2 linked regions of the Homo sapiens genome follow. The protein of the gene in region 1 purifies or fractionates together with the protein of each later gene. This does not show direct contact. Each region holds a gene or a part of one and is shown on either strand. Other genes may lie near its edges.

What was found. The genes of interacting proteins can lie anywhere in the genome.
Region 2: the proteins of ZNF263 (region 1) and TRIM37 purify together in Homo sapiens (affinity purification with mass spectrometry; 2 studies listed by BioGRID and IntAct, with this or other methods). This does not show direct contact.

The regions. Positions count from the first base shown.
Region 1 is NC_000016.10:3,288,237-3,293,146, forward strand, and holds the end of ZNF263 (zinc finger protein 263), read left to right. Parts: intron 1-217; coding exon 218-334; intron 335-1,156; coding exon 1,157-2,322; 3' UTR 2,323-3,224; downstream 3,225-4,910. UniProt on the Homo sapiens protein: Transcription factor that binds to the consensus sequence 5'-TCCTCCC-3' and acts as a transcriptional repressor.
Region 2 is NC_000017.11:59,029,294-59,033,880, forward strand, and holds part of TRIM37 (E3 ubiquitin-protein ligase TRIM37), read right to left. Parts: intron 2,798-4,587; coding exon 2,603-2,797; intron 1-2,602. UniProt on the Homo sapiens protein: E3 ubiquitin-protein ligase required to prevent centriole reduplication. Probably acts by ubiquitinating positive regulators of centriole reduplication.

The sequences.
Region 1 (4,910 bases):
GTGAGACTCTGTCTCAAAAAAAAAAAAAAAGTCTCCCTCCCCTAATTTCTTTCTCTAGAGGTATCCACTGGGAACAGTTTGTGTATATTCCAAGTAACTGCTGTCAGATTTATGGAGCATTCTGTATTTATCCACTGAGGGCAGGGAACAAGACTGTTTCCCTACCCTGGTAGAGGAAAGTGGCAGTACAGAAATCTGTTTCTTTCATTGTGAACAGAGTCTCACATTCCCAGTCAGGAGGTCCCAGGCACCCAGGTGGGACAAGGAGGAAAGCTATGGGATCCCAGTGTCCAGAGCTGCAAGGAGGGCCTGAGCCCCAGAGGCCCAGCTCCAGGTAAGGAATGAAGACAAGTGGCCTGCGCAGCAAGCAGCAAGGCTCTTGCAGTTAAGAGTGAGGCATTTTTTGGTTTTGTTTTGTTTTGTTTTGAGATGGAGTGGCACTCTTGTTGCCCAGGCTGGAGTGCAACAGTGCGATCTCGGCTCACTGCAAGCTCCGCCTCCCAGGTTCAAGCGGTTCTCCTGCCTCAGCCTCCCGAGTAGCTGGGATTACAGGCATGCGCCACCACGCCCAGCTAATTTTTTGTATTTTTAGTAGAGTCGGGGTTTCTCCATATTGGTCAGGCTGGTCTCCCTGACCTCAGGTGATCCACCCACCTCGGCCTCCCAAAGTGCTGGGATTTACAAGTGTGAGCCACCGCCCCCAGCAGAGTAAGGCATTTGAGGATTTGGGTGCAGGGCCGGCCCAGCACAGCTGCTAGAGAGGTACATTACGTCCTTTGACCCTGCCATTCTCCATCCCAGTGAGGCAAGTGAGGAACCCAGGGTGCAGAGTTCAAGGAGGCCCTTATTCTTGAGCTTACTTGTCCCACCCTACTCTCAGCCCTGCTCCATCCCACCCATTCCTGAAGGGCAGAATCGAGAGGCTCAGGTGGAAAGGAAAATTCTAAGACTGGTCTCGGCTCTGATTCCTTGACCAGTGGCCCGACCCTTTATCCTGATGCTTCTCCAGAGTGCTTTACCTTTAGGAGAGGATGGGATTCTGAGGTAGAAGCAGCCCTTCTGGGCTGCTGACCTAACAGGCAGCGGCAGACAGGTGGGATTTTCTTTTCTCCAGCATAGAAATAATGTACGGGTTTGGTTTCTCTCTCTCTACCAGGAGAAGAGAAATTTGAGAACCTGGAAGGTGTTCCGTCTGTATGCTCTGAGAACATCCACCCTCAGGTGCTGCTTCCTGACCAGGCCCGAGGGGAGGTGCCCTGGAGTCCTGAGCTGGGAAGACCTCATGACCGGTCGCAAGGGGATTGGGCGCCTCCCCCAGAGGGTGGAATGGAGCAGGCCTTGGCAGGAGCCTCAAGTGGCAGAGAACTGGGGCGACCGAAGGAACTGCAGCCAAAGAAACTCCATTTATGTCCCTTGTGTGGCAAAAATTTCTCTAACAACTCAAACCTAATTAGGCACCAGAGAATACATGCAGCTGAAAGACTGTGTATGGGTGTGGACTGCACTGAAATCTTTGGTGGGAACCCACGTTTCCTGTCACTACACAGAGCACACCTGGGAGAGGAGGCCCACAAGTGCCTTGAATGTGGGAAATGCTTCAGTCAGAACACCCATCTGACTCGCCACCAACGCACCCACACGGGTGAGAAGCCCTATCAGTGCAACATTTGCGGAAAATGTTTCTCCTGCAACTCCAACCTCCACAGGCACCAGAGAACGCACACTGGGGAGAAGCCCTACAAGTGCCCTGAGTGTGGGGAGATCTTTGCTCACAGTTCCAACCTCCTTCGGCACCAGAGAATTCACACTGGAGAGCGACCTTATAAGTGTCCCGAGTGTGGGAAAAGTTTCTCTCGGAGTTCACACCTCGTCATTCACGAAAGAACTCATGAGAGAGAGAGACTTTACCCCTTCTCTGAGTGTGGGGAAGCTGTGAGTGACAGCACCCCCTTTCTTACAAACCATGGAGCCCATAAGGCAGAGAAGAAGCTCTTTGAATGTTTGACTTGTGGGAAAAGCTTCCGGCAGGGCATGCACCTCACCAGACATCAGAGAACACACACAGGAGAGAAACCGTATAAATGTACCCTTTGTGGGGAAAACTTCTCTCATAGATCCAATTTAATCAGGCACCAGAGAATCCACACAGGAGAAAAACCCTATACCTGTCATGAGTGCGGAGACAGCTTCTCTCACAGCTCCAATCGGATTCGCCACCTGAGAACGCATACGGGAGAGAGACCCTATAAATGTTCTGAATGTGGAGAAAGCTTCTCTCGGAGTTCCCGTCTTATGAGTCATCAGAGAACTCACACAGGTTAGTAACAGTGGGGTTTCTCTTTGCCCCAGGTGAGGTGGCATATTCAGAGGAGCCTGTTGGCAAGAGCTGGTATTCCCTGCCCAGCCGACCAAATGACCTCTGCATTCTTCAGGTAATGGGGGCTCATTGTGAGGGAGGTGCAGAGGCAGCAGAGGATTGGCATAAAACTGAAAAGGAGTTCTGTCTGCATGAGAAAGGATGGCAAGTCTCTGAGGTGACCTCAGGGTGGAATTCTCTGTTAAGTCCACCCTGCCCCAGGGTGCTCCTACCCTCTTGGTCTTTTTAAAGCCAAGGTGCGATTTGGGCACCTGACTGTCCAGTTTACCTTAACAAGTTTGGGAATCCATGTGATGTTTTTGATACTTCTTCCTCATTTGGGACATTCAGTAGGAGCATTTGGGCTTCCGGGGCCCCTGAGACCAAAGAAGAGGGGCCAAGTACCCTGGGAAATCAGCTGAAGGTCAACAAAAGACTGGTTGTGAGTTGCAGCTGTCCCGAAGGCCCCAGTTGGGAAGCCATGGGCAGTCCAGATCAAGCCACCACGTGCCCTACGATGGCCTAACAGGAGTGCCCATTGGCAGATTACACATGTAAATATGACCTCAGACAAAAAGGAACCAGAGGCCCAAGGGCAATAATAAGGTGGAATTTGCAGGTCAGCCCAGGAATTGGCAGAGGAAGTAGGTGTCTGATAACCCTTTGTGGAGAATGAGATTCCCCCCACCTGTGTGAGAAAAATAAACAGCTCTGGAGTCTTGTTCCTGACTCCAGAGGAACGAGAGCATTCCAGGAAAGAGAGATTCCCTGGAAAATTGAAAATGTGAATCCTAGGGGGAAATTGGGGATTGTGTCTTTCCCTGTTGAAAATGTTTGGATGGGAATAAATATCTTCAGGAAACATAAATGTCTGTGAGTCTTCAATGAAAGCCTCTGTCTAGACCCCCGAGTGTTGATCTGTCTCCCCTCTGCCTTGGTCAGAGGCCCTGCTTTCTCATAGACTTACTGGGTTGGTCAGGAAGATGCTGACAAAGGAGGCAGCAGACAGGCAGAGGCAGGTGAGGGCCTGGCAGCCTCCAGGCTGGGACTGCCATGTGGTAACAAAGGGTCAAGCCAAATGGCTGCTGGGGTGATGCTGTCATAGGGTCTCTAGAAAGTATTCTTTCCTTCTGTGGTCTATAGCAGTAAAAATGTTTTCAATTCTTTGTTTAGAATGTTTACATTCTTACTCAGTAGCTGAGGAAGATCTGACTCTTAGAGAACAGGATATTTTGGTCTTGCAACTGATTTCCAGGGTGGAAGTTAAGATGGTCCCAGTATAACTGAGTTATTGATTATTAATGGTAGGAAGATATAGGAGATGGCGCAATTATTAAGGGAAAGCATTATATTTATTTTTTGGTAGAGGTGGGGTCTCACTATTTGCCCAGGCTGGTCTTGAGTTCCCGAGCTCAAGCCTTCTTCCCATCTTGGCCTCTCAAAGTGCTGGGATTACTAGCATTGCATTTTAGAATGGCATATCAGAAATAGGAATTCTAGTAGTGTGTATCTGTGGGAAACGGGGGAGTATTCTAAGAGTAGGAAATCGGATGCCAGGAAAACACCTCAGGATACAGCCCCGGAGGAAGGTATCCAGCTGTTCTTCGGGTGAAAAAGATGAAGAAACAGTCCTTTGGGAACAGGCTGATGGATATAGCAACTTGAAGTCATGGAAACAGCGCTCCATTGATCCTTCTCTCAGCCCTGCCTCAGTTTAGTATGTGTTTTTCTTTGGTTGTCTGAGCCAGTTTTTTAATATCTCACTATTTCTCATTTCTGTAACTTCCTCTTAATCAGCTTGTTCACAGGAGGAGGGCAGTGGTGGTGTGGGGGTTGAGGGCAGGGAAGTGGAGGGTTAGGATTAGAGAGATCAGAGTAGGATCAACAGTGGTAGGAGCAGGACCACACTCCAGTGGAGCAGTGCAGGGCCAGCCAGGCTGCTGATGTCATGAATTGGATGGAATGTAAAGCTGGTGTTCCTACAAAGCACTCTGGTTAAGATGGCAGTTTATGTGGACAGAGACTGGAAAGCGCCCCTTCCATCTACTCTCCCTCCCTTGGTAACATCACCCACACAGATCTTATGATGTGGTCCAACTGGTGCTGCTCATACTTGGAACACTGCAGCTTGAAGCTGGGAAATGACTCTCAGGTATTTGCCATAAAAAGGCATTCCATTGGAACGCTTCACTCAAATCTTCAGTCTAGTTCCCCTTCTAGTAAACTTCACATGCTTAGCTGTTCTTGGCCTGTTTTAATGAGATGACATCACAGAAAATAACTACATAAAGCAGCACTATGCCTGGCATGTAAGAAAGTGCCAACTGTCGACAGATGATCCAAAAGATTTCCTTCTAAGCATCTAACACTGACTGAGGTCACTGAAGACCACACTGGCAGGAATTTCAGGGACTGATGACATCTCCTTCCCTTGTACTCATGTTTGAGAGAGTAGGTCTGATTCCCTTACTGCAGGCCCCCATGAGGTCTGATACGGTTCGGCTCTGTGTCCCCACGCAAATCTCATCTCTAATTGTTATCCCCATGTGTCAAG
Region 2 (4,587 bases), on another chromosome or scaffold:
TTTCTGATAATTTTCTCAGAACTGTCAGCTTTCTGAAATACGGTTTGAATCTAACCACTTCTAAAATAAAACAATAGCTCTCCATGCCTAGTATGAATAAATTCCTCCGGCTAGCATGCAAGTCCTTTCATAGAATGGACCCAACATGACTCTAGTTCTACTTACCACTATATGTACCTTAAAATCTGGTTCAACTAGATTACCTGATACCTTTTACAGTACTCCTTTACATGGTTAAGAACATGAAGTTAATCTGACAAATGTTCACTAAATATGTGTTAAATAAATACACAGAAAAAAATAAACATCAAAGCCCAAGCAGGCCACGTGCAGTGGCTCACGCCTATAATCCCAGCACACTTTGGGAGGCCGAGGCAGGTGGATCACTTGAGCTCAGGAGTTTTGAGACAAACCTGGCCAACATGGTGAAACCTGTCTCTACAAAAAATTGTAGAGCACTCCAGCCTGGGCAACAGAGTGAGACTCTGTCTCAAAAACAAACAAACAATCAATCAAACAAAAAATGACCCAAGCAAGCCTTTTCAATAAAAAGAAAGTCATATATTTCTGCACACTAGCTTTTATTAACATCCCTTCACTGAAAGGTATTTTCATTTGGCTTCCATGAGTATTTTTTCTCCTTTCTAAAAGCTCTTTATCTGGCTCATCTTCCTGACACTCAGTAAAAACAGATATTCATCAGGATTATGTTCCTGGCTCTCTTCTTTTAAAATATTCTTAAAACTCCTTTGCAATCTCACACCCTTGGTTTTAATTATCCAGTATCACCTCCAGAAAAATAACTGTCTGTATTCCAGTTCATTTTTTTTTTTCATGGAGTTTCACTCGTTGCCCAGGCTGGAGTGCAATGGCACGATCTCGGCTCACTGCAACCTCCGACTCCCAGGTTTAAGCCATTCTCCTGCCTCAGCTTCCCAGGTAGCTGGGATTACAGGCACCTGCCACAATGGCCGGCTAATTTTTTGTATTTTTAGTAGAGACAGGGTTTCACCATGTTGGCTAGGCTGGTCTCGAACTCCTGACCTCAGGTGATCCACCCGCCTCAGCCTCCCCAAGTGTTGAGATTACAGGCGTGAGCCACTGCGCCCAGCCCCAGTTCTTAATTTTTAGCTGTCTACTGGTCCTTTCTAATTTGATGTCACACTGTTATGCCCAACTCAAGATGTTTAAATCCAAAACTTGCTTTTTCTTTCTACTATTTTCCCCGCCCTCATTATTGCCAGCATTTTATCACCTAAATTTGAAATTCAGATCATCTCATTTGTATTGTTTTTACACAGAAAACTAGTTTTACACAGAAATCTTACTATTTAGTTTGCATTTTTCCCAATGATACTGATTATTTTCAAAAACACGATTTTACTTGTCTATAAAATATACCATTGCATGGTTACACTGTAATTTATTCAGCTATAACTGTATTGTTGAATATTTTTAAACATCTGCTTGTTTTCTCTTTGGAATATACTCCTCAAAGTGAAATTACAAGTTTAAAGGATATAGATATTTTTAAACTACTACAAAATTGTCCTTCAAAAAGGTTAAACCAACTTACATATCTACCTACAGAATCAGAACCTGTCTGTTTCACTGGGCCTTTGCAAACAACACTTAACATTTAAGTAAAACTTTATATAAAGCATACTTGGCGCACACATAAAAGGCAACTGTTTCATAACCTGAAGATAGTCTTTTAAGCTGAGGATCCAGACTTTCAGGAAGTATATCTGGCTCTTAGGAAAGAAGAAGCCTAAATAATCTGGGCTCCATGTCCCTACACCAGTAGAAGAGCTCTATTTCTCTGTTATTTACACAGAGGTTCTGCCTTGGACTTTGATTGAAAAATGAGTTATCTTGCCTTAAAACTACATCAAAATCAGAGTTCTAAATCATTGATTTGATGTATATAATACTATTGTTTAAGAAGGTAGAAAAATATTTGGCATATATTTTTGAATATACTGACTATACTTTAGAAAGCATTCCAACAAAAATGGTTTTTAAAATGTAGCTTTTAAAGGCAAATACTTAGTTGTCCAAAATGACTCTATCCCCGAGAGTTTAAAAAAGCCCATATTTGACTATACAAATCTCCATTTTATTATAGTAACACAAATGTAATTTCTATTTAACAAATAACCTTTGCACAGAAAACAGTGCTGCCAACTGGCATACATTTTTAAGCTACTGAACATCAAAGAATGAGTAAGTCACCTTTTTCTACGTTCAATTTAGATATAGTTCCACTTGGAAGTAAGGGAATTCATGAAGCCTGACCAAAAAAAGTCCATTCATAAAGAAGATAACCGTATTTCATATGGATCAAACTGTCAGGCAAAATCTGAGTAGCAAGTCACAAAAAACCTTCTTGCAGGCATTTTTACTTTGTTTTTGCACAAATCACCTTTGAACGGTAATTTAAAAACTAATTTGGTTGACATAAATGTCATTTTTATGGTATACAATGAAAAACACAGAAATACACCATGTTCCACACATAGCTGAAATACTTAAATGAAAATCCAAGAGTTCTTTTAGAGAACCACAGAAAAAAAGGAAATTATCATTGTTATTATTTTACCTGTGGGCTGCAGAAGTGAAGCAGGTGGGCGAGGCTGTAAGCCCCACAAATTTTCTATACTGCTCCGGTCCTTAAGGTCCAACAAATGTATTAAAATTAATGGATCAATGTCTAGTAAACTACTGGTAGCAGCGGAGCATAAATGTGTTCTTCTTGATATTCTACTACTGGAACCCACATAACCATGGCTACTACCTGCAAAAGAGGCGTAGAAAATGATATATATATGCACAAACTTAGCTATACTTAAATGAAAAAATGAACTGGTTAACATTATATGAATACTTGTCTATGGACCTATCTCTTAGGAGTTCAGGTTCATGATAAGAAGCAGAAAGAAGGAACCAGGGCCGGGCGCGGTGGCTCACGCCTGTAATCCCAGCACTTTGGGAGGCCGAGGCGGGTGGATCATGAGGTCAGGAGATCGAGACCATCCTGGCTAACAAGGTGAAACCCCGTCTCTACTAAAAATACAAAAAATTAGCCGGGCGCGGTGGCGGGCGCCTGTAGTCCCAGCTACTCGGGAGGCTGAGGCAGGAGAATGGCGTGAACCCGGGAAGCGGAGCTTGCAGTGAGCCGAGATTGCGCCACTGCAGTCCGCAGTCCGGCCTGGGCGACAGAGCGAGACTCCGTCTCAAAAAAAAAAAAAAAAAAAAAAGAAAGAAGGAACCAGACAGTTGTACATTAGCACAGTGATTGAGTGGTGGCCTCATTAGTACTTAGAATTCAGAAGCAAGCCTCAACCCCATCCTGAGCCCTAGAAAAAAACAGATGACAATGTGTACGATGTGCACAATTGGGGGGATGAGAGGTAAGGGTAAGGAGAAGGAGATTATATCCCATGACCACCTGGTTTTAGATAAAAGAAGACAAATTCCCATAGTATAACAGATTACAAAGAATTAGACACCAAAATAGAAATCTCCCCCAAGTCTCTGGACAGTAAAATGTATAGGTCATGACAGTTTGGTAGACTTTTTCTACTTTGATTAAATAATGGGGTACAATTTGAAGTTTTTGGACTGTCATGTTAATGACTGATGCACATTACAGACATCTGTAGGCAGATATTATGCCTATACCCCTATATTGGACTATGCTCTTTAAGCCAAGAAAAGCATCTGACTTTTCTCTAGCACCTAGTATAATGCATAACAAATACCAGATATGGAAATGTTGCTTAAAACTGACCTTCTTCAATAAAGCTGTTTAAATATATTTTAAAGAGATAGAACATTTTAAAACAATGCTACACGCAGGAAAGTAGATAATATAAAATATTAAAAAGTCAGGTTCCAACTACCCATGAGTATTTCAGAGAGATCCAGCAGGATATAACTTAGGAGGAAAGTTCCATTGTTCAGAAGCTTCAAGCCAATTAATAATTTATGCTTTTCACATCCTCATGTTCTCACTGTCTCCCACTTCTGCCTCCTCTTCTAAGGATTATTATCTCACTGACAGTTTTTCTTCCCAGCCTCTGTATTACTGCAATTCCTATTAAATAACAGAAAACGATTTCCCCTTCACATTGAAAACTGTTCTTTGTTGTGTTTTGAGACACAGTCTCACTGTTGCCCAGGCTGGAGTGCAGCGGCCCGATCTCCACTCACGGCAACCTCCGCCTCCTGGGTTCAAGCGATTCTCCTGCCTCAGCCTCCCGTAGTGGGGACTACAGGCATGCACCACCACACCTGTATTTTCAGTAGATACGGGGTTTCACCGTGTTAGGATGGTCTGGATCTCCTAACCTAGTGATCCGCCCGCCTCAGCCTCCCAAAGTGCTGGGATTACAGGTGTGAGCCACCGCACCCAGCTGAAAACTGTTTTTACCTCTTTTCTTTTACTAAGGAATTCCCAAATTGGGTTGTATGTCAGTCAGCTGAAGGAGTTTTTAAAATTACATCCTAGATACACTGAACAAGAATACTGGGGTGAGAAGCTGGGTGCAGTGGCTCACGCCTGTTATCCCAGCACTTTGGGAG